2 separate regions of the Homo sapiens genome follow, and region 2 is linked to region 1. A link means that fine-mapping ties the variant in region 1 to the expression of a gene that starts in the linked region. Tissue or cell type: whole blood. Region 1 holds a variant in brackets; the other region holds the start of a gene. All regions are shown on one strand. Distances are from middle to middle.

Evidence for each region. PIP is the estimated chance that this variant, and not a neighbour inherited with it, causes the effect.
Region 2: EXOC3L2 starts here. The variant in region 1 is fine-mapped to the expression of EXOC3L2 in whole blood (INTERVAL, PIP above 0.99).

What each region holds. Positions count from the first base shown.
Region 1 is chr19:45,206,798-45,218,017 of GRCh38, reverse strand. EXOC3L2 (exocyst complex component 3 like 2) reads left to right here. Exons shown (of 12, transcript NM_001382422.1): 10 at 335-490; 11 at 1,824-1,945; 12 at 4,661-5,648. The coding sequence ends at 4,949. It also overlaps a transcript of BLOC1S3 not described here. Among named protein-coding and RNA genes, the nearest start is that of EXOC3L2, 33 kb to the left of the region's middle. RefSeq lists enhancers at 1-253, 254-949, 1,572-2,106. The variant T/C (reference allele first, on the strand shown) is at 5,079.
Region 2 is chr19:45,239,858-45,249,608 of GRCh38, reverse strand. It overlaps EXOC3L2 (exocyst complex component 3 like 2), which reads left to right and starts at 4,202. Exons shown (of 12, transcript NM_001382422.1): 1 at 4,202-4,268. RefSeq lists an enhancer at 3,512-4,508.

The DNA.
Region 1 (11,220 bases):
GGGTCTGCGGGGAGGCATGTGCGTGGAACTGGGGTGTAAGGCGGGGTGCAGACTGAGTCAGGGCCCCTGAGAGTGGAGCTTGGGGAATGGGGAGAGGCTGGGATGGAGCACCCTTTGGGGACCGGCAGAGACTGTCCGCGGGCTAATTAGGGGGCCAGGGAAGGCATCCTAGGATAGCTCAGGGGCTGGGGACTGGGGCGTGGGCACGGGAAGGGTGCCCATGGGTGCCCGGAGTGGATGTGGGCGAGTGGGGCGGGGGTGGCCTTCAGACTGGCGGGATGGGAGTCCGTGGGGCATGGCTCACACCCCTCGGGTTTCCCTCCTCCGCCTCCAGGCGCTGGTAGCCGAGCTACACCGGCGGGCGCTGGTCGAGTACGTGCGGCCCCTGCTCCGTGGGCGCCTGCGCTGCAGCTCGGCGCGGACCCGCAGCCGCGTGGCCGGCAGGCTCCGGGAGGACGCGGCGCAACTGCAGAGGCTGTTCCGGCGGCTGGTCAGTGTCGGGACGCGGTTGGGGGTGTTTCAGAAACCAGGACAAGGCTTGGCTTCCGAGAATCTCAGGTCCCAAAAGCCAGGGGGAGAGGGGCAGAGCTCAGGACAGAAACTCTCACCCAACTTCGGGTCAATAGCAACCAGTAACTTTGACCGACACCCTTTGCACTTAAAACCTGGCTTTCTTGCTCTGAGAACTCGCCTCTGGGCGCTTTCCTCGGCTGTTAAATAAGGCGAATAATGGTCCCTATCCATTGTTTTGAGGATCAGATTGGTTAATTCCTGTTAAGTGCTTTGGACAGTGCCTGGCTCAGAGTTAAAACTCCTTGCATTACCAAAATTATCCGGGTGTGGTGGCTCACGCCTGTAATCCCAGCTACTTGGGAGGTTGAGGCAGGAGAATCGCTTGAACTAAGAGGCGGAGGTTGCAGTGAGCCGAGATCCTGCCACCACACTCCAGCCTGGAGGACAGAGTGAGACTCTGTCTCAAAAAAAAAAGAAAAAAAAGACTCCATGAACGTACAGAGAAACTACATGCAACAGAAACACAGAAATCCTAACATTTCTAAACCCTGGAATTAAAAACCGCCAGATCTTATTTGTACCCAGTTGTATTCAGCTGGGCTGGAAGGGCCTCATTCAGTCGCTCTTCTTGGAGTTCCAAGCCCGGAGTCCTTGGAATGTTTTCTTTGGAAAATTTTTGAGATAATTGTAGATTCACATGCAGATGTAAGAAAGAATGCAGGGAGCTTCCTTGTACACTTTGTCCAGTCTCCATCCCCGCAAAGGCAAGATTTTGCAGACGTGGAAGAGGTTTGGAGATGTTTCCCAGAGTTCCAAATTACCTGCAAAACTGGGAGGAGATTATATTATGGATTTTTCTCAAATGTGGCCATAGTATGTCTTCTGCTACATTTTATTTTTTATTTTTATTTTTATTCTTTATTTTTGAGACAGAGTCTCGCTCCGTCACCCAGGCTGGAGTGCAGTGGTGCAGTCTCCGCTCACTGTAACCTCTGCCTCTCGATTTCAAGTGATTCTCCTGCTTCAGCCTCCTGAGTAGTTGGGATTACAGGTGTGCACCACCACGCCTGGCTAATTTTTGTATTTTTAGTAGAGATGGGGTTTCACCATACTGGCCAGGTTGGTCTCGATGTCCTGACCTCTAGTGATCCACCCGCCTCGGCCTCCTCCCAAAGTGCTGGGATTACAGGCTTGAGCCACCACCCCTGGTTTCTGCTACATTTTAGAGATGGTATAACAAGCCAGGAGGGGCAGGAATTGGCAGGGTCAATCTTGGGAGGGTGTGACCCCGCACCCTCCCTCCCCTGCAGGAGTCCCAGGCCTCGTGGCTGGATGCCGTGGTGCCCCATTTGGCTGAAGTCATGCAGCTGGAAGACACGCCCAGCATCCAGGTGGAGGTGGGAGTGTTGGTGCGCGACTACCCAGACATCAGGTGAGACACCCCGCCTGGGCCAGGGCTCGCCGTGCCTGGCCGAGGTCTCCTGGCGGCCTTGGCATCCGTCCCTGTGCTTCCTGCCTCCTGAGGGAGGGAGCCGGTGAGCGTGTCTGACGGCCGTTTCCTGCTGGAACCAGGGCATTATTAATAAGATTTCCCTCCTTCTCCTGCCGCCGCTGCTGCCTCCGCCGCCACCGCCACCAGGGCTCACAAACAAACAGGCGGTCACAGGAAGCCCAGGGCAGGGGGGCGCAGGGCTGCCTGGAGGCAGGAAGGGCCAGCCCGCAGGGGAGCCGCAGGGGACTCAGGGACACGCAGGGCACACGGGCGCACACGCACTGGGACAGCGGCAGGCGCAGGCGGCATTCAACTCCTGCCAGGTCACTTCCTTTGTAGGTGACCTTCTCGGAGCCTCAGTTTCCTCATCCGTTCCATGGGGATAGTAGTATTCTCGTCATAGGGTTATTAGGGAAATTTATCATCATCATCATCATCATCATCATCCATGACTATAGTAACAATTCCAGTTCTCACTCAATGAGTTCTTATTTCAGACCTAAATAAGCATCTTACATGCCAACTTTTTTTCTTTTTTTTTTGAGACAGGGTCTCACTCTGTTTCCCTGGCTGGAGTGCAGTGGCACAATCACGGTTCACTGCAGCCTTGACCTCCTGGGCTCAAGCAGCCCTCCCACCTCAGCCTTCTGAGTAGCTGGGACCACAGGCATGCACCACAATGCCCAGCTAATTTTTTGTATTTTTTGCAGAGATGGGTTTCACCATGTTGCCCAGGCTGGTCTCGAACTTCTGGGCTCAAGTGATCTGCCTGCCTCGGCTTCCCACGAATGGGGAAGTGTGAGCCACCGTTGCCCAGCCCATGCCAACTTTATAAGGGGTATTTTGTTGTTGTTTGTTTTGTTTTGTTTTTTGAGACAGAGTCTCACTTTGTCGCCCAGGCTGAAGTGCAGTGATCTCAGCTCACTGCAACCTCTGCCTCCCGGGTTCAAGAGATTATTGTGCCTCAGCCTCCCAAGTATAGGCATGTGCCACCACGCCCGGCTAATTTTTGTATTTTTAGTAGAGATGGGATTTCACCAAGTTGACCACACTGGTCTTGAGCTCCTGACTTCAGGTGATCCGCCTGCCTCTGCCTCCCAAAGTGCTGAGATTACAGGCGTGAGCCACTGCGCTTGGCCTATAAGTAAGGGGTATAATTAAAGCTATTGAAATATCACGCCTAGCAAGTGGCAAAGGTGGAACTTGAACCCAGGCAGTAGACTGGCTCTAAAACTAGTACACCAGATCGGCCGGGCATGGTGGCTCACGCTTGTAATCCCAGCACTTTGGGAGGCCGAGGTAGGTGGATCACCTGAGGTCAGGAGTTCGAGACCAGCCTGGCCAACATGGTGAAACACCGTCTCTACTAAAAATACAAAAATTAGCCAGGTGTGATGGCACACTCCTGTAATCCCAGCTACTCGGGAGGCTGAGGCAGGAGAATTGCTTGAGCCCAGGAGGCGGAGGTTGCAGTGAGCTGAGATCGCGCCACTGCACTCCAGCCTGGCCAACAGAGCAAGACTCTGTCTCAAAACAAACAAACAAACAAACAAACACACAAAAAAACTAGTGTACCAGATCAGCACACCACACCACCATGTGACAGTGCTGGATGGTGGTGGCAGTGGTGGTGGCTGCCGGAGCAACGCCAGTCCTTGCAGTGCTATTTGGGCAGACACATTCTCAGACATACTCAGAGAAACAGAACCCCAGAAAAACAAGGAGTGAGGCATGAGCGGGTTTCAGTTTCAGCACTGAGGGTGGGGGTCCTGGAATTGATTCAGGGTGGTCAGTTCTGATTCTGGGGGATAAGGTCATGTCCTTGGGAAGGCACATATTCCTGGAGTCCCATGGGGTCCCAAGAAGTCCCAGTATTCTTGCTGATGTGGAGTTTCTGAACTTGAATATTGGATCATGAGTCAGAACTTGAATCTGTAGCTAAGTTTAAGAGTTTGCTAGCTGGGTTGGGTTTAGGGGGTTGAGCTTGAGATTAGGAGGTACCTAGGGCTGAGGATTTAGGGGGAGTGGGGTACAAGGTTTCTTTCTTTTTTTTACTTTTGAAATGGAGTCTCGCTGTGTCACCCAGGCTGGACTGCAGTGGCGCGATCTCAGCTCACTGCAACCTCTGCCTCCCAGGTTTAAGGGATTCTCTTGCCTCAGACTCCTGAGTAGCTAGGATTACAAGCGCCTGCCACCACACCCAGCTTTTTTTTTTTTTTAATGTATTTTTAGTAGAGAGAGGGTTTCGCCATGTTGGCCAGGCTGGTCTCGAACTCCTGACCTCAGGTGATCCGCCTGCCTTGGCCCCCCAAAGTGCTGGGATTACAGGCATGAGCCACGGCACCCAGCTGAGAAGGTGAATTTTAATCACGAGCTGAGGCTTGGGGTGAAAAGGAAGATCCCAGGGCTGGTTCTGGGGTTGGTTGTAAGGGGGATTTGGAGATGGTTGGAAGTGAAGTTCTGGAGGGAGCTGGTATGAGGTGAGGGCCTGGGCAAGGGAGCTGATTGGAGGGAAGGCTCTGGAGGGGACACAGAGGCCCCAGAACTCAGGCAATTTCTGGGATAGGTGAGGGGGTCAGGTGGGGTCCACGGCTGGGTTGGGTGTGTGTCTAGAGCTGGGGATCTGCATGCACCTGTCTGTTCCTCTCCCCACAGGCAGAAGCACGTGGCAGCCCTCCTCGACATCCGTGGCCTGCGCAACACAGCCGCCCGCCAGGAGATCCTGGCCGTGGCCCGGGACCTGGAACTCTCTGAGGAGGGAGCCCTGTCACCCCCTCGGGACCGTGCCTTCTTTGCAGACATCCCTGTGCCCCGCCCATCTTTCTGTCTCAGCCTCCCTCTCTTCCTGGGCCGCCTCCCCCTCTCCCGGCTGGCCAGGCCCAGTTTGGCCTGTCTGCCTCGGCCCCGGCCTCCGTCTCTAGCGCGACCTCGGGCCCAGCGCTGAGGGTCACCCAACCGCCGGCCTTAGTGACCCCATCTATGCTGCTGACAAGCCAACCTCCCGTACGGCGCCCCTCCTGACTCCCTGCCTGGGACCACACACCCCTGGGATAGAAAGACCCTTAGATGTCTT[T/C]TCACCCAACCCCAAACTCCCTGTACAGAAGGGAAACAAACGCCAGGCACGGTGGCTCATGCCTGTAATCCCAACACTTTGGGAGGCTGAGGCCGGAGGATTGCTTGAGCCCAGGAGTTCAAGACCAGCCTGGGCAACATAGTGAGACCTGCCCCCTATCTCTACAAAAAATAAAAAATTAGCTGGGCACGGTGGTGTGTGCCTGTAGTCCCAGCTACTGGTGAGGCTGAGGCTGGAGGATCACTGGAGTTCGAGGCTGCAGTGAGCTATGACTGTGCCACTGCACTCCAGCCTGGTCAACAAAGCAAGACCCTTTCTCAAAAAAAAAAAAAAAAAAAAAAGGTAGGGGGAAACAGAGGCCAAAGAGACAAAGCATTTTCCCAAGGCCATGAAGCCTGTTCCCAGCACCTCCCCTCCTGCCATAGCCCAGAGTGGTGAGTGTCGTTCTGGAAGTCTCTACAGAAATATCCCAGCTCCCCCGCCCCTTTCCCTCACCTCAAGGTCTGGCCCCAATCCAATGTATTAAGGAACGTTCGATACTTAGAATAAAGAGGTTTCTATTTAACACAAGGAAGGGCTGAGTCCTGAGTGTGTTGTGGGGAGGAAGGACCGGGGAAGCAGGGCCCCGGGCCAGTGGCTTCTCACACACCCAAGGCCGGGCTGGGCTCCAGCTCCTGGGCAGGGTAGTGGAGGTAGAGGGAGGCTGCATGTGCTGGGAGCGACGCCAACCCATGTACACCTCCTGGCTGTGTGGCTCTGAGGCCAGGCCTTCGCCACTCTGAGCCAGGGTCCCTCGTCTGGTCAATCTCAAAGTGCCTGTCCATTCCTGGTCCTGGTGGCTCCATCTTGGCACACCCTCCCCATCCATCCTTAGCCGGGAAGCTGCCCTGTCAGGAGAGGAAGGAGGTTGGGGGCAGGGCTGGCGGCATCCAGGGCGCCCTCCTGGGTTGACGCAGGAAAGTCTCGGGGTGGGAAAATTTCCAGCCTCTCACCCCCAGCCCCGCCGGATCCTAGTCCCCACGGAGACCTTGAGGTCACCTCCCTGCTGACTCCTGCCCCTCCGGCCTGGGCTGGACAGCCCGTGATGGATGTTTCCTGACTTGTGGGATTTTTTGTGTGTATGTGGTTTTTTTTTTTTTCCCTGAGAAGTCAGAAAGAGGAGGCAGCCAGGGGTTAGCACTGGGGCTGGGTTTGGAACTTCACGCATGCACATTTGAACTTGGGGAGGTAGAGACGAGGGACTCTCGGAGCCCAAGGCTGTGCTTCCTGACCCGAGGCAGGAAGCTGCCCCTCTCTGGGCTGAGGTTCCTGTGCCTTTCTGGGGGAATTGCTTAAACTCTCTTTCCCCAGGCTGAGGCAAGAATGTCCTGAGGGTGCACCTTCCTCACTTTGCCCTCTGAAAATGACATTTTCTTTTTTTTTTTTTTTTCAGTCAGAGTCTCATTCTGTCGCCCAGGCTAGAGTGCAATGGCGCGATCTCAGCTCACTGCAACCTCCACCTCCCAGGTTCAAGCAATTTATTCTCCTGCCTCAGGCTCCTGAGTAGCTGGGATTACAGGTGCCCCCCCTCCACCACCACCATACCCAGCTAATTTTTGTATTTTTAGTAGAGACGGGGCTTCACCATGTTGGCCAGGCTGGTCTCCAACTCCTGACCTCAAGTGATCTACCCGCCTCAGCCTCCCAAAGTGCTGGGATGACAGGCATGAGCCACTGTGCCCAGCCCGAAAATGACACTTTTTATGTTGCCAATATGCAAAAGAGCAAGAGAGGAGTTGAGGAATCAACAATATTGTGCAGTCCATAGACATTTATTATTTATTTTTTAGAGACAGGGTCTTTGCTCTGTTGCCCAGGCTGGAGTGCAATGACACGATCATAGCTCACTGCAGCCTCTACCTCCTAGCCCAAGTGATCCTCCCACCTCAGCCTTCTGAGTAGCTGGGACTACAGGCTCGTGCCAGCACACCCAGCTAATATTTTATTTGTTTTGTAAAGACAGAGTCTCACTATGTTGACCAGGTTGGCCTCAAGCCATCCTCCTGCCTCATCCTCCCAAAGTGCTGGGATTACAGGCGTGAGCCACTGCCACTGCCCTGTAGGCGTTGAATTAAACATATAAGAGCCTCAGTTTGTCAATGTACTTTTCAGATGTTGGTCCTCCATTGAAAAACAGCTTTTGGCTGGGCACAGTGGCTCACACAGCAGTTTGGGACACAGAGGTGGGAGGATCGCCTGAAGCCAGGTGTTCAAGGTTGCAGTTGGCTGTGATTGTGCCTCTGCGTTGTAGCCTAGATGATAGGTGAGACCTTGTCTCATTAAAAAAGAAAAAAAAAAAAGTGGCCGGGTGAGGTGGCTCACACCTGTAATCCCAGCGCTTTGGGAGGCCGAGGTGGGCGGATCATGTGAGGTCAGGAGTTCGAGACCAGCCTGGCCAACGTGGAGAAACCACATCTCTACTAAAAATTCAAAACTTAGCCAGGCGTGGTGGCGCATCTATAATCCCAGCTACTCCAGGAGGCTCAGGCAAGAGAATCACTTGAGCCCAGGAGGCAGAGGTTGAAGTGAGCCGAGATCGTGCCCCTGCACTCCAGCCTAAGAGACAGAGCAAGACTCCATCTCAAAAAAAAAAAAAAAAAAAAAAAAAAAAGTTAAAATAGTAAATTTTATGTATATTTCAGCACAATAAAAAAATTTTAAATAAAGAAACCTCATACTCATTTGTAGTTAATATCCAATCTCCCTAGTAACTTTCTAGCCCTAAGCAGACACTAATCTCTCTGTCTCTATTAATCTACCTATTTTGGACTTTTCACATTTGGAAATACATAACGTAGTCTTTTGTGACTGATGTTTTTCATGTGCATAATTTTGTTTTGTTTTGTTTTGTTTTTGAGACAGAGTTCTGGCCAGGCACAATGGCTCACGCCTGTAATCCCAGCACTTTGGGAGGTGGCTGAGGTGGGCGGATCACGAGGTCAGGAGATGGAGACCATCCTGGCTAACACAGTGAAACCCCATCTTTACTAAAAATACAAAAATTAGCCGGGCGTGGTGGCGCATGCCTATAATCACAGCTACTTGGAAGGCTGAGTCAGGAGAATCGCTTGAACCCGGGAGGCAGAGGTTGCGGTGAGCAAAGATGGTGAGCCAAGATGGTGCCACTGCACTCCAGCCTGGGCAACAAGGGCGAAACTCCGCCTCAAAAAAAATAAAATAGGCCGGGCATGGTGGCTCACGCCTGTAATCCCAGCACTTTGGGAGGCCGAGGCGGGCGGATCACGAGATCAGGAGATCGAGACCATCCTGGCTAACACGGTGAAACCTCGTCTCTACTAAAAATACAAAAAATTAGCTGGGCGTAGTGGCAGGCGCCTGTAGTCCCAGCTACTCGGGAGGCTGAGGCAGGAGAATGGAGTGAAACCGGGAGGCGGAGCTTGCAGTGAGCCGAGATTGCATTACTGCACTCCAACCTGGGCGACAGAGCAAGACACTGTCTCAGAAAAAAACAATAATAACAATAAAATAAAGAAATAGAACTACTCTCTTCGAAATTTTCAAGTATACAATACATTGTTATTAACTGTAGTTGGTCAGGCGCAGTGGCTTATGCGTGTAATCCCAGCACTGTGGGAGGCCAAGGTGGGCGGATCACTTGAGGTCAGGAGTTTAAGACCAGCCTGGCCAACATGGTGAAACCCCATCTCTACTAAAAATATAAAAATTAGCCGGGCATGGTGGTGCTCGCCTGTAATCCCAGTTACTCAGGAGGCTGAGGCAGGAGAATGGTTTGAACCCGGGAGGCAGAGGTTGCAGTGAGCCGAGGTAGCACCATTGCACTCCAGCCTGGGCAACAGAGAGAGACTCCATCTCAAACAAACAACAAAAAAAAAACAAAACTGTAGTCACCATGTTGTGCAATAGATCTCCTGAACTTACTCCTCCTAACTGAAATTTGTATCCTTTGACCACCGTCTCCCCAGTCCTCCTTTTCCTCTTTTCTAATTAAGCATTTAAAAATCTATCAATGTCTTTCTAAGCATTACTTTATCTCATGTCATGTATTTTGATATGTTATTTTTTTTCATTGAGTTTTATGTAGTTTATACTTTCTCTTTTGATTTCTTCTTCGACTTCTGGGTTATTTACTTTCCAAATACTTGTGGGCTTTTTTTTTTTTCTTTCTGAGATAGTTTCACTCTTGTTGCCCAGGCTGGAGTGCAATGGCACAGCCTCAGCTCACTGCAACCTCAGCCTCCTGGATTCAAGTGATTCTCCTGCCTCAGCCTCCCAAGTAGCTGGGATTACAGGCACCCACCACCACACCCAGCTAATTTTTGTATTTTTAGTAGAGATGGTGTTTCACCCTGTTGGTCAGGCTGGTCTCGAACTCCTGACCTCATCAGGTGATCTGCCCACCTGGGCCTCAAAGTGCTGGGATTACAGGCGTGAGCCACCACGCCCGACACCACGCCCAGCTAATTTTTGTATTTTTAGCAGAGACAGCGTTTTGCCATGTTGGCTAGGCTGGTCTCAAAGTCTTGACTTCAAATGATCCACCCACCTCGGCCTCCCAAAGTACTGAGATTACAGGTATGAGCGATGGCACCTGACTGATTATTTTTATTTCTAAGAGATTATAGATTCATAAGAAGTTACAAAAAGAGAGGCTGGGTGTGGTGGCTCATGCCTGTAATCCCAGCACTTTGGGAGGTCAAGGAGGGCAGATCACGAGATCAGGAGTTCGAGACCAGCTTGGCCAACATGGCAAAACCCGTCTCTACTAAAAATACAAAACTTAGCTGGGCGTGGTGGCAGGTGCCTATAATCCCAGCTACTTGGAAGGCTGAGGCAGAAGAATCGCTTGAACCCAGGAGGTAGAGGTTGCGATGAGCCAAGATTTCGCCACTGCACTCCAGCCTGGGTGACACAGCAAGACTCCATCTCAAAAAAAAAAAAAAAGTACATGGTGGTCTTGTTTGCCCTTCATCCACTTACCTGATGCTAACATCTTATATAACTGTAATACAACATCAAAACAGGACATTGACATTAGTTCAATTCTAAGACCTTAATCTTCCAATTTCACTGGTTTTACTCACTCCTATGTGTACCTGTGCACATGTGTGTGTATGCAGGTGTATGCGTGTGCACCTGCACATTCCTATGTGTAGCACTAGGCAAAAATTTTTTTTAATTTTTTGAGATGGAGTCTCGCTCTGTCTCCCAGGCTGGGGTGCAGTGGTGTGATCTCAGCTCTCTGCAACCTCCACCTCCTGGGTTCAAGCAATTCTCGTGACTCAGCCTCCCGAGTAGGTGAGACTATAGGTGTGCGCTACCACGCCCAGCTAGGTTTTTTTTTTTTTTTTTTTTTTTTTTTTTTTGAGACAGAGTCTCGCTCTGTCACCCACACTGGAGTGTGGAGTGCAGTAGCACTTGAATGTAGACTGCGAGAAGTTAAAGATGTGGACTATAAACTCTACAGTGACCATTAAAAAAACAAGGCAGGTGAGGCGCGGTGGCTCACGCCTGTAATCCCAGCACTTTGGGAGGCCGAGGCGGGTGGATCACCTTAGGTCAGGAGTTTGAGACCAGCCTGGCCAACATGGCGAAACCCCATCTCTACTAAAAATACAAAAATTAGTCGGGCTTGGTGTCGGGCACCTGTAGTCCCAGCTACTCAGGAGGCTGAGGCAGGAAAATCACTTGAACCCGGGAGGCAGAGATTGCACTAAGCCGATATCGTGCCACTGCATTCCAGCCTGGGCAACAGAGTGAGACTCTGTCTCAAAAAAAATAAAATAGCTGGGCGCGGTGGCTTACACCTGTCATCCCAGCACTTTGGAAGGCTGAGGAGGGTGGATCACTTGAGGTCAGGAGTTCAAGACCAGCCTGGCCAACATGGTGAAACCCTATCTCTATTAAAACAAATTAGCTGGGCATGGTGGCAGGCGCCTATAATCCCAGCTACTCTGGAGGCTGAGTGAGGCAGGGGAATCAGTTGAACCCAGGCGGCAGAGGTTGTAGTGAGCCTAGGTCGTGCCACTGCTCTCCAGCTTGGGTGACAAGAGTGAAACTCTCAAATAAATAAATAAATAAAATAATAAAACAAAGAGCTATAGCTAATAAGCCTACAAAAGAG
Region 2 (9,751 bases), 32 kb before region 1:
GCCCAGCTAATTTTTTGTAGCCATATTGCCCAGGCTGATCTCCAACTCTCAGGCTCAGGCGATCCTCCCACTTCGGCCTCCTAAAGTGCTGGGACTACCCTGCACTCAGCCAAAAGCTGGTTGTGAAAGCACAGCACTGCTTGATACTATGAGCAACACAGACTCATGGCAGTTGCCCTTGTGCCAGGCTCTGAGCAGTTTCTCCTTTCTGCCACCCCAAGAGGTAGGGAGCATCTTTATCAATCCCATTTGCAGATGAGGAAACAGAGGCCCAAGGAAGGGAGAAACGTCACACGCTGAAGGTCACACGGCAAATTAGTGGCAGGGCTACAATTTGAATCCAAGTGCTCCCAAGTTCCAGAACTTGGACCCTCTCTCAACCACTGTGGTTTCCTGTCTCCGAAAAATAATAGCAGCAACCTCAGGCTGCTACTATTTTTATTTGTCAATTTGTTTATATTTATTTGTTATTTTAATGTTACTGCTAACAAATAAATGAGAATCTTTGAGTAAAGTGCTTCACAGGGGACCAGATTCAAAATTCATATGTGGGGACATTATTATTACTATTTGGCAAATATGGCCCGAGGAGCCTCAGGGACAGTGGCAGAGAGGGTGGAGTTCCGGGGTAGTGTTCTAGACGTACTGTGATCCCAGGGACGCCGCAGGGTGAAAGTGGGGGTCTTGGGGGTAGGCTAGAGGGGCTGAGCGCCCCCAACCCGTTCCCTGCATTGGCGCTGAGAGCTGCAGTTCTACCGTGCACCACACGGGGGCAGCCGATCACCTCCCTACACGCGCCCCACACACTCCAGGGTCCACCCCTGCCCTCCCTTCCCCAACAGCGTCCCCACCCCATTTCCCAGATGTGGGGGGACCGAGGCTTACAGAGAGGGAGGCTGCAAAGTGGATGAACCTTGAAAACAGCATGTGGCCGGGCGCGGTGGCTCACGCCTGTAATCCCAGCACTTTGGGAGGCCGAGGCGGGCGGATCACGAGGTCAGGAGATCGAGACCACGGTGAAACCCCGTCTCTACTAAAAATACAAAAAATTAGCCGGGCGCGGTGGCGGGCGCCTGTAGTCCCAGCTACTCAGGAGGCTGAGGCAGGAGAATGGCGTGAACCCGGGAAGCGGAGCTGGCAGTGAGCTGAGATCGCGCCACTGCACTCCAGCCTGGGCGGCAGAGTGAGAATCCGTCTCAAAAAAGAAAAAAAGAAAACAGCATGTTTAGCGAAAGAAGTCAGACGCAAAAGACCACTTACTGTATGCTTCCATTCATATGAAATATTCAGAATTGGCAAATCCATAGACAGAAAGTAGATTAATGGTTGCCAGGGGTTGGAGGCTGGGGAATGAGAAATGACTGCTGATGGGTACCAGGTTTCTTTTTGGGGTGATGAGAATGTTCTGGAATTAAATAGTGGTGACGCTTGCTGCAACCTTGTGAATATACTAAAACCTACCGGACTCTGTTTGAAAAGGGTGACTCTTATGTATGTGAATTGTATTTCAATAAAAAATAATAATAAAATTTAAAAAGGGGGCTGGACGCGGTGACTCACACCTGTAATCCCCGTACTTTGGGAGGCCAGAACGGGAGGATCACTTGAGCCCAGGAGTTCGAGACCAGCCTGGGCAACATAGTGAGACCCTGTCTCTAAATCAAAATAAAAAAAATAATTTTTAAAAAGGAGGGGGACGGGCACGGTGGCTCACGCCTGTAATCCCAGCCCTTTGGGAGGCCGAGGCGGGCAGATCACGAGGTCAGGAGATCGAGATCATCCTGGCTAACACAGTGAAAACCTGTCTCTACTAAAAAAAATACAAAAAATTAGCCGGGCGCTTGCAGGTGGCAAGCGCCTGCGTCCCAGCTACTCGGGAGGCTGAGGCAGAAGAATTGCTTGAACCCAGGAGGCGGAGGTTGCAGTGAGCAGAGATCACGCCACTGCACTCCAGCCTGGCGACAGAGCAAGACTCCGTCTCTAAATAAATAAATAAATAAATAAATAAATAAGGCGGGGTGGAAATCCTGCACGATCCCAGTACATGATGGGCCACTGCTGACCATGGGTCCGCGGTGCAGAGGCCGAGCTGGGGGGCAAGGCCTGTTCCTCTGCCTCCCGACCTGGTCATCCAGCTAGCCCTTCCTCCACAACCTATGTCTGGTGAATTCATTCCTTCAACTGGGGCATTCAGACCTTTGAATCTTAACCCTTGGATCCAGGAGGGAGCTGTGATCCCTAAGCCCAGCCCCCGATCCTAATGTTGACCCCAACCCTGATCCCAGCCTGGACTTTGCCTAGGCCAGTGATCACGCATCCCCCTCAGGCTGTGCCTGAGCACTTGAACACAGTTTATCTTATTTATTTATTTGTTTGTTTGTTTATTTGAGATGGAGTCTCACTCTGTCTCACAGGCCGGAGAGTGCAGTGGCACAATCTCGGCTCACCGCAACCTCTGCCTCCTGGGTTCAATCGATTTCTTCCGTCTCAGCCTCCCGAGTAGCTGGGATTACAGGTATGCACCACCACACCTGGCTAATTTTTGTGTTTTTAGTAGAGGCAGGGTTTCATCAGTTTGGCCAGGCTGGTCTCAAACTTCTGACCTCAAGCGATCCACCCACCTTGGCCTCCCAAAGTGCTGGGATTATAGGCATAAGCCACTGCAACCAGCCCAGTTTTATTTATTTAAAAAAAATTTTTTTTTTCTTAATTTTTGAGACAGGGTCTCTCTCTGTCACCCAGGCTGGAGCGCAGTGGCGAGATCATGGCTCACTGCAGCCTCCACCTCCCAGGATCAAGTGATCCTCCCACTTCAGCTCCCTTAGTAACTAGGACTACAGCGTGCCACCACACTTGGCTAATTAAAAAAATTTTTTTTTTTGTAGAGACGGGGTCTTGCTATATTATCAGGCTGGTCTTGATCTCCTGGGCTCAAGCAATCCCCCTGCCTTGGCTCCCAAAGTGCTGGAATTACAGGCATGAGCCACCACACATGGCCCTAGCCTTTTAAAGTAACCCTGACTCTCATACCCAACCCCACCCAGCACCAGCTCCAGCCCCAGCCCTCACTTCACTTGGCATCCCAACTCTAGCAGGAAGTCCATCTCCAAACCCACCTCCAACCCTCAGCTTCATTTAAATTCATTTAAATCTTGACTACTGAGGGCCAGGCACGCAGCTAGGCTTATAAAGATGAACAGGATCAACAAAGTGAGCTTTGCTGAGTTTATCTGCAAGGAATCCAGTTGCATCTGATAATTTCAGATTGTAGAAGGTGCAATAAAGAAATTGACAGGCTGGGCACAGTGGCTTACGCCTGTAATCCCAGCACTTTGGGAAGCCGAGGCAGGAGGATGGCTTGAGGCCAGGAGTTTGAGACCAGCCTGGAGAACCTAATGAGACCCGTGTCTCTACAAAAAATACAAAAATTAGCTGGGCATGGTGGTGCATGCCTGTAGTCCCAGCTACTCAGGAAGCTGAGGTGGGAGGATCTCTTGAGTCTGGGAGATCCAGGCTGCAGTAAGCTATTGTTACGCCACTGCACTCCAGCCTGGGCAACAGAGCAAGACTCTGTCTCAGGAAAAAAAAAAAGAAAAATAAATTGACAAAGCAGAGTGACGACTCTGTGAGACGGGACAGTGGAGAACAGAGGAAGAGACTGTGGGGCTGGAACTGGGATGATGAAAAGGAGGGCCTCATGCAGAGACCTGGGTACAGGGGCTTCTAGACAAAGAGAACCACAATTCCAAAGCCATGTCCAGTGCCCTCCTCCATAGGTCCCCCTCCCCAGCCCCTGGGCCCAGCAAAACTTCCCTCCTGGTCTTCAGCCCGTGGCAGGGAACTCTAGAGAGATGCGTGCCTGCCCCCCGGTTCTCATTCTAAGGCCTCGGGGCTTGCCCATGCTGGAGAGCAGCTCTGGGCTGGCGTCCAGCTTGGGGTGTCTCCCCGGGGCGCCCAGGATGGTGTTGTCACCTTGGGAGGCGTGAAGAGCATGCAGGAGTGGGCGGATTCCGGCCTGGAGCGGGGGTGAGGGTGGGGGCCCAGCTGTGGGCCTCGGCCTTCCCAGCCCAACCGCAGCCTGGCCTAAAAGGGCAGACAGATAATGAGTCCTTCCCGCCCCTGGCCCCAGAGAGGGAGGGGTTTCCTGACAGGAAATTGTCCTCCTCCGAGCACCCCCCCAACTCAGATCCAAGCTCCCAGCAGTCCTGGCTGAAGTAGCCTGGGGACAGGACAGCAGCGGGAACAGAAGGACGGGCAGGAGGACAGAGGTGAGTGTGCTGGGGACAGGGGGAAGGGGTCCCCCTTCCCCAGGGCAACTGGGAAAACAGTTGCCCTTAGTTGCACTGGACCAGAGCTGATGAGAACCTGTACCTTGAACCCAGCAGAGGCTGGGGGCAAAGAGAGAATCTGGGGCCTGACTCCAGAGGGGTGCTGGCGAGAAGGCAGAAAGGAGATGAAAATGAGAGGAGGGTGCAGGGGAGAATTTGAGGACTCGCGGGGTCCACAAAGGGTGCAAGGGAGCATTAGAAACCTTGGTGCCACCAAAGGAGAATAGAGATGAGATGACATTGGGTCGAATGTCCTGCGAGTCTGGGCGGGAAGACTGAGGCCAGGAAGGATCGGGTATTTGTTCTATCCCAAGAGATGGGGTCTCGGAGATGGGAGACAGGGACCAGGTAGGGATTGAGATCAAGCAGGAGAGACCGAGATCAGGTTGGGATTGGAGATGTGGATGAGCTTGCAGTGGTCTGGGCTGATGACAGGATTGTGTTTGGGGTCAAGGACTAGATTGGGGTTGCACTGGTTGGGGTTGGGCTTGGGGACATGCCATATGGAAAGACCGTTCTCTAATACAGATGCTGAGCGTTGGAGGTGATGGATTCCGCAAACCGAGGTCAGGGCCGCTGCAGAAGGTTAGGGACTCCGGGGAAAAGGCTGGCAGTGAGGAAGAGGAGGAGGGGCTCAAAGAGGGAAGCTCTGGTGGCCAAGACATCCTGCGGGCCTGAGAGGCTGGGGGCTTGAGGGATGCCTCGGAAGTGAGTCAGGGGCTGGGCACTGGGAGGCAGACAGAGGGTTGGAGGGGGCAGGATGTCAGCACCAGTTTGCAGAGGCGGGTGTTGGAGCCAGGAAGGGGAAAGACGTCGGAGACAGTTTTGGGAAAATGTTGCAGCCAGGTTTGGGGATGTTGGATCCAGTTTGGAGGCGATATTGAAGCCAGGTGGGGGAAAGTCAGATGTAGTCCGGGCAAGGTTGACTTCAATTGGAGGGAAATTCGAGCCTGAAATTTTGAGAGGAAGATGGAGACAGTTATGGGGTGGAGGGGGGATGATGGAGCCATTTTGGGATGAGGCATGTGGATGCCAGTTCAGAGGATGAAAGAGAAATCAAGGCTGGGTGTGGTGGCTCATGACTGTAATCCCAGCACTTTGGGAGGCTGGGGCAGGTGGATCGCTTGAACTCAGGAGTTGACCAACCTGGGCAACAGGGCGAAACCTCATCTCTACTAAAAATACAAAAATTAGCCAGGTGTGGTGACTTGCACTTGTACTCCCAGCTACTCGGGAGGTTGAGGTGGGAGGATTGCTTGAGCCTGGGAAGCAGAGGTTGCAGTGAGCCGAGACCATGCCACTGCACTCCAACCTGGGTGACAGAGTGAGACTGTCTAAAAAATAAAAGAGAAGGACAGAGTGCGGTGGCTCACACCTGTAATCCCAGCACTTTGGGAGGCTGAAACAGGCGGATCACAAGGTCAGGAGTTCGAGACCAGCCTGGCCAATATGGTGAAACCCCATCTGTACTAAAAATACAAAAATTAGCCAGGCGTGGTGGTGGGCACCTGTAGTCCCAGCTACTTGGGAGGCTGAGGCAGGAGAAATCGCTTGAACCCTGGAGGTGGAGGTGCAGTGAGCTGAAATCGCGCCATTGCACTCCAGCCTGGGTGACAGAGCGAGACTCCATCTGAAAAAATAAAATAAAATAGAAGAGAAATGAGTGTGCAAATAATGTGTGTGCATGGGGGAGTATCTATTGCACACAGCCATGGGGGCTCCAGGCAAGGGGTCGTCATGGTGACTGCCTCCTGTGGGGGCGGGGGCCCATGGAGACCGGAAGGAGGTCCGAGAGCGTTTCTAGGAACTGGAGGGTTGAGAAGCAGCAGCTCAGGGGTTGAAACAGGGAAAGAAAGAAGGGGCCTCCCCATCATGGAAAGGGGTGCTCTTACTCATAACCTAGGCAACCCAGGCCTTTTGCACACCACCCTCTTCCCAGGCCTCCTGTCCACCCCCGCACGTCTGCATAATCCTGACCCTGTCCTGACCTGCTCAGAACCCTGTCGTGGTGACAAACAAGCTACACGTCCAGCAATAGAAGAACAAGTGAACATCTGACCCTTTACACAATTCATATAGTGGAATATTACATAGCACTTAAATGAACTGGAGCTGTATGGCTAGACATGGATAAATTCTCACAAGTTCATAACGTGAGCAAAAAAATAAATTTTAAAGCAAGTTGCAAGATACAAATAGTATGATACCATTTATAGAGAGTTTGAAACCATGTAGAACAGTATATTATTTCTGGATACAAGTCTATGGAGCATGGGATAAAAATCTACTTGGACGGGTAAACAGCACATTCATTCTGGATGCTGGATTCCTTAGGAGAAGGCCAGAGCGAGTGGGACCAGGAGAGGTGGCAGGAGGAGGCTGCACGCATTTGTAATTCTTTTTTTTTTTTTTTTTTTTTGAGATGGAGTTTCGCTCTGTTGCCTAGGCTGGAGTGCAGTGGCACAGTCTGGGCTCACTGCAGCATCCGCCTCCTGGGTTCAAGTGATTCTCCTGCCTCAACCTCCCAAGTAGCTAGGACTACAGGCACCCGCCACCACACCCAGCTAATTTTTGTGTTTTTAGTAGAGGCAGGGTTTCACCATGTTTGCCAGGTTTGTCTCAAACTCCTGACCTCAGGTGATCCTCCCTCCTCGGCCTCCCAAAGTGCTGGGATTATAGGCGTGAGCCACTGCGCCTGGCTTGTTCTTTAAAACAAAAATCAGGGCAGTGGATGGTGGCTCACGCCTGTAATTCTAGTACTTTGGGAGGCCGAGGAGGGAGGATTGCTTGAGGCCAGGAGCAGGAGTTCCAGACCAGCATGGGCAATATAGCGAGACCCCATCTATAACAAAAAATTAAACAATAAAATTAGCAGGATGTCCCCGTTGCTTGGGAGGCTGAGGTGGGAGGATCGCTTGAGCCCAGGAGTTCAAGGCTGCAGCCAGCCATGATCACGCCTCTGCACTCCAGCCTGGGCAACAGAGTGAGATCCTGTCTCTAAAGACAAAAGCAACAACAAAAACCTGAACTAAGAGAGCAAATGATTGTGTGAGCTGTGGCTAGGATTGTAGGCACAGAAGTGTTTATTAAGCTTGTCTTCTGTACTTTTCCGAATGTTTGAACTATTTCATTGTTTTAAAAAGCACCTATCTGTGGCTCTGCAGGGCTCTTGGAAGAAAGCCTGTCCCTTATCAAGGAACTTAAAGCCCTGCGTGGCCTGCTCCCTAGTGACCTCTTCCAGCTCGACTCACCCTCCTCCTCCCCACACAAGGAATGAACTGTCTTGCCACTTTCCTTCCTTCATTTCCTGTTTAGCACCCATTCCCTGAGTGTCTGCCCTGTGCTGGGAGCTGGGGACACAGTGGTGACTGAGACAGCCCCAGCCCTGTCCTGCTGAGGTTTGCAGTCCAGTAAGGGACACAGATCTGTCCCCAGACAGGGATGACCCAGAGCAGGCAGAGGTGAGGTGTGGGAACCCAGGGACTGGGAGCCTGAGGGTCACAGAGGGCTTCCTGGAGGAGGGGGCATGGGGCTGAGTCCTGAAGTGTGAGTCCTGAAGTCCTGACTGGAGCATGGAGAACAGGCGTCTATGTAGAAGCACCAGCAGATGCTGAAACCTGGAGGTTCCTGGGGTAAGGAGGAGGCTACGGGACAGCACTAGTGACGTGTGCAGCTGCCAGAGCATGAAGGCTGTGGTGAGAGGCCTCAGCTTTGTCCTGAAGATACTAGGGAGCCATGGAAGGCTTAGGAGATGGAGAAGAGCAGGTTTGTGCTTTTTCTTTTCTTTTTTTTTTTTTTTTTTTGAGATGGAGTCTTGCTCTGTCGCCCAGGCTGGAGTGCAGTGGCGCGATCTCAGCTCACTGCAATCTCCGCCTTCCGCGTTCATGCCATTCTCCTGCCTCAGCCTCCCGAGTAGCTGGGGCTACAGGCGCCTGCCACTGCACCCAGCTAATTTTTTGTATTTTTAGTAGAGACGAGGTTTCACCATGATCTCGATCTCCTGACCTTGTGATCCGCCCGCCTCGGCCTCCCAAAGTGCTGGGATTACAGGCGTGAGCCACTGCACCCGGCCTGGTTTGCGCTTTTTCAAGGTCCTCAAAGGCGGACTGGAGGTGCCAAGACTAGAGGCTGGGGACCAGGGAGGAGGCCAGGGCAGGGAAGTGGGCAAGGGTTCCGCTTGGGGTAGGGGCTATGGGAAGTGAGTGAAAGGAGGGAGCGCAGACTGAAGAGAGGCTTAGGAGATGGAATGGGCAGGACTCAGGAAGCTGTAATGGCAGGGATGGGGGCTGCCCTGGCCACTGCTGTGTCCCTAACGCCTGCACAGGGCTGGGCCCATGGCTAATACCTAGTAAGTTGTTTTGTTTTATTTTATTTTTTGAGACTGAGTCTTGCTCTATTGCCCAGGCCAGAATGCGGTGGTGTGATCTCAGCTCACCGCAACTTCTGCCTCCTGGGTTCAAACAATTCTCCTGCCTCAGCCTCCCGAGTAGCTGGGATTACAGGTGCATGCCACCACGCCCGGCTAATTTTTTACTTTTTTTATTTTTAGTAGAGACGGGGTTTCACCATGTTGGCCAAGCTGGTCTCGAACTCCTGACCTCAGGTGATCTGCCTGCCTCCACCTCCCAAAGTGCTGGGATTACAGGCATGAGCGACCACGCCTGGCCTTAAGCCATTTTAAAAGCATACAATTAAGTGGCACTTAATGCATTCACAGTGTTGTACAACCATCACCTTTATCTAGTTCCAGAGTGTCTTCCTTTCCCCAAAAGGAAACCCTGCATCCATTAGCAGCCACTCGCCATTCCCCGTTCTCTCCAGTCCTATTGTCAGTCTCCTTTCTGTCTCTAAGGATTTGCCTAGAGACCTGCGAGGTGATTTGCACCTGTAATCCCAGCACTTTGGGAGGCAGAAGTGGATAGATCCCTTGAGGCCAGGAGTTTGAGACCAGCCTGGGCAACATAGCAAGACCCTGTCTCAATAAATAAATAAATAAATTAATTAATTAATTAAGTGGGCATGGTGGTACACACCTGTAGTCCCAGCTGCTGAGGAGGCTGAGGTACGAGGATCATTTGAGCCCAGGAGTTTCAGGCTGCAGTGAACTATGATGGGGCCATTGCACTCCAGCCTGGGTGACAGGGTGAGTCCCAGTCTCAAAAAAAAAAAAAAAAAAAATTAGGCTTTGCCTATTCTAGACATTTCCCAATAAGTTTTTGCTGAAGAGATGAATGAGGGAGAGATGACAAGGGTACAAATCAAACAGGAGAAATGAAGGGGATGAGGGGGTGTAGGCAGGTGCTCAGGAGTCTGCCCTGGACGTCTGGGTGGATGGTAGGGCCTGAGTCCCCATATCATCTCTGCCCTTGACTGACTGTGTCATCTTGGGAGGGAGCCTTCCCCCCTCTCAGCCTGTTTCTCCA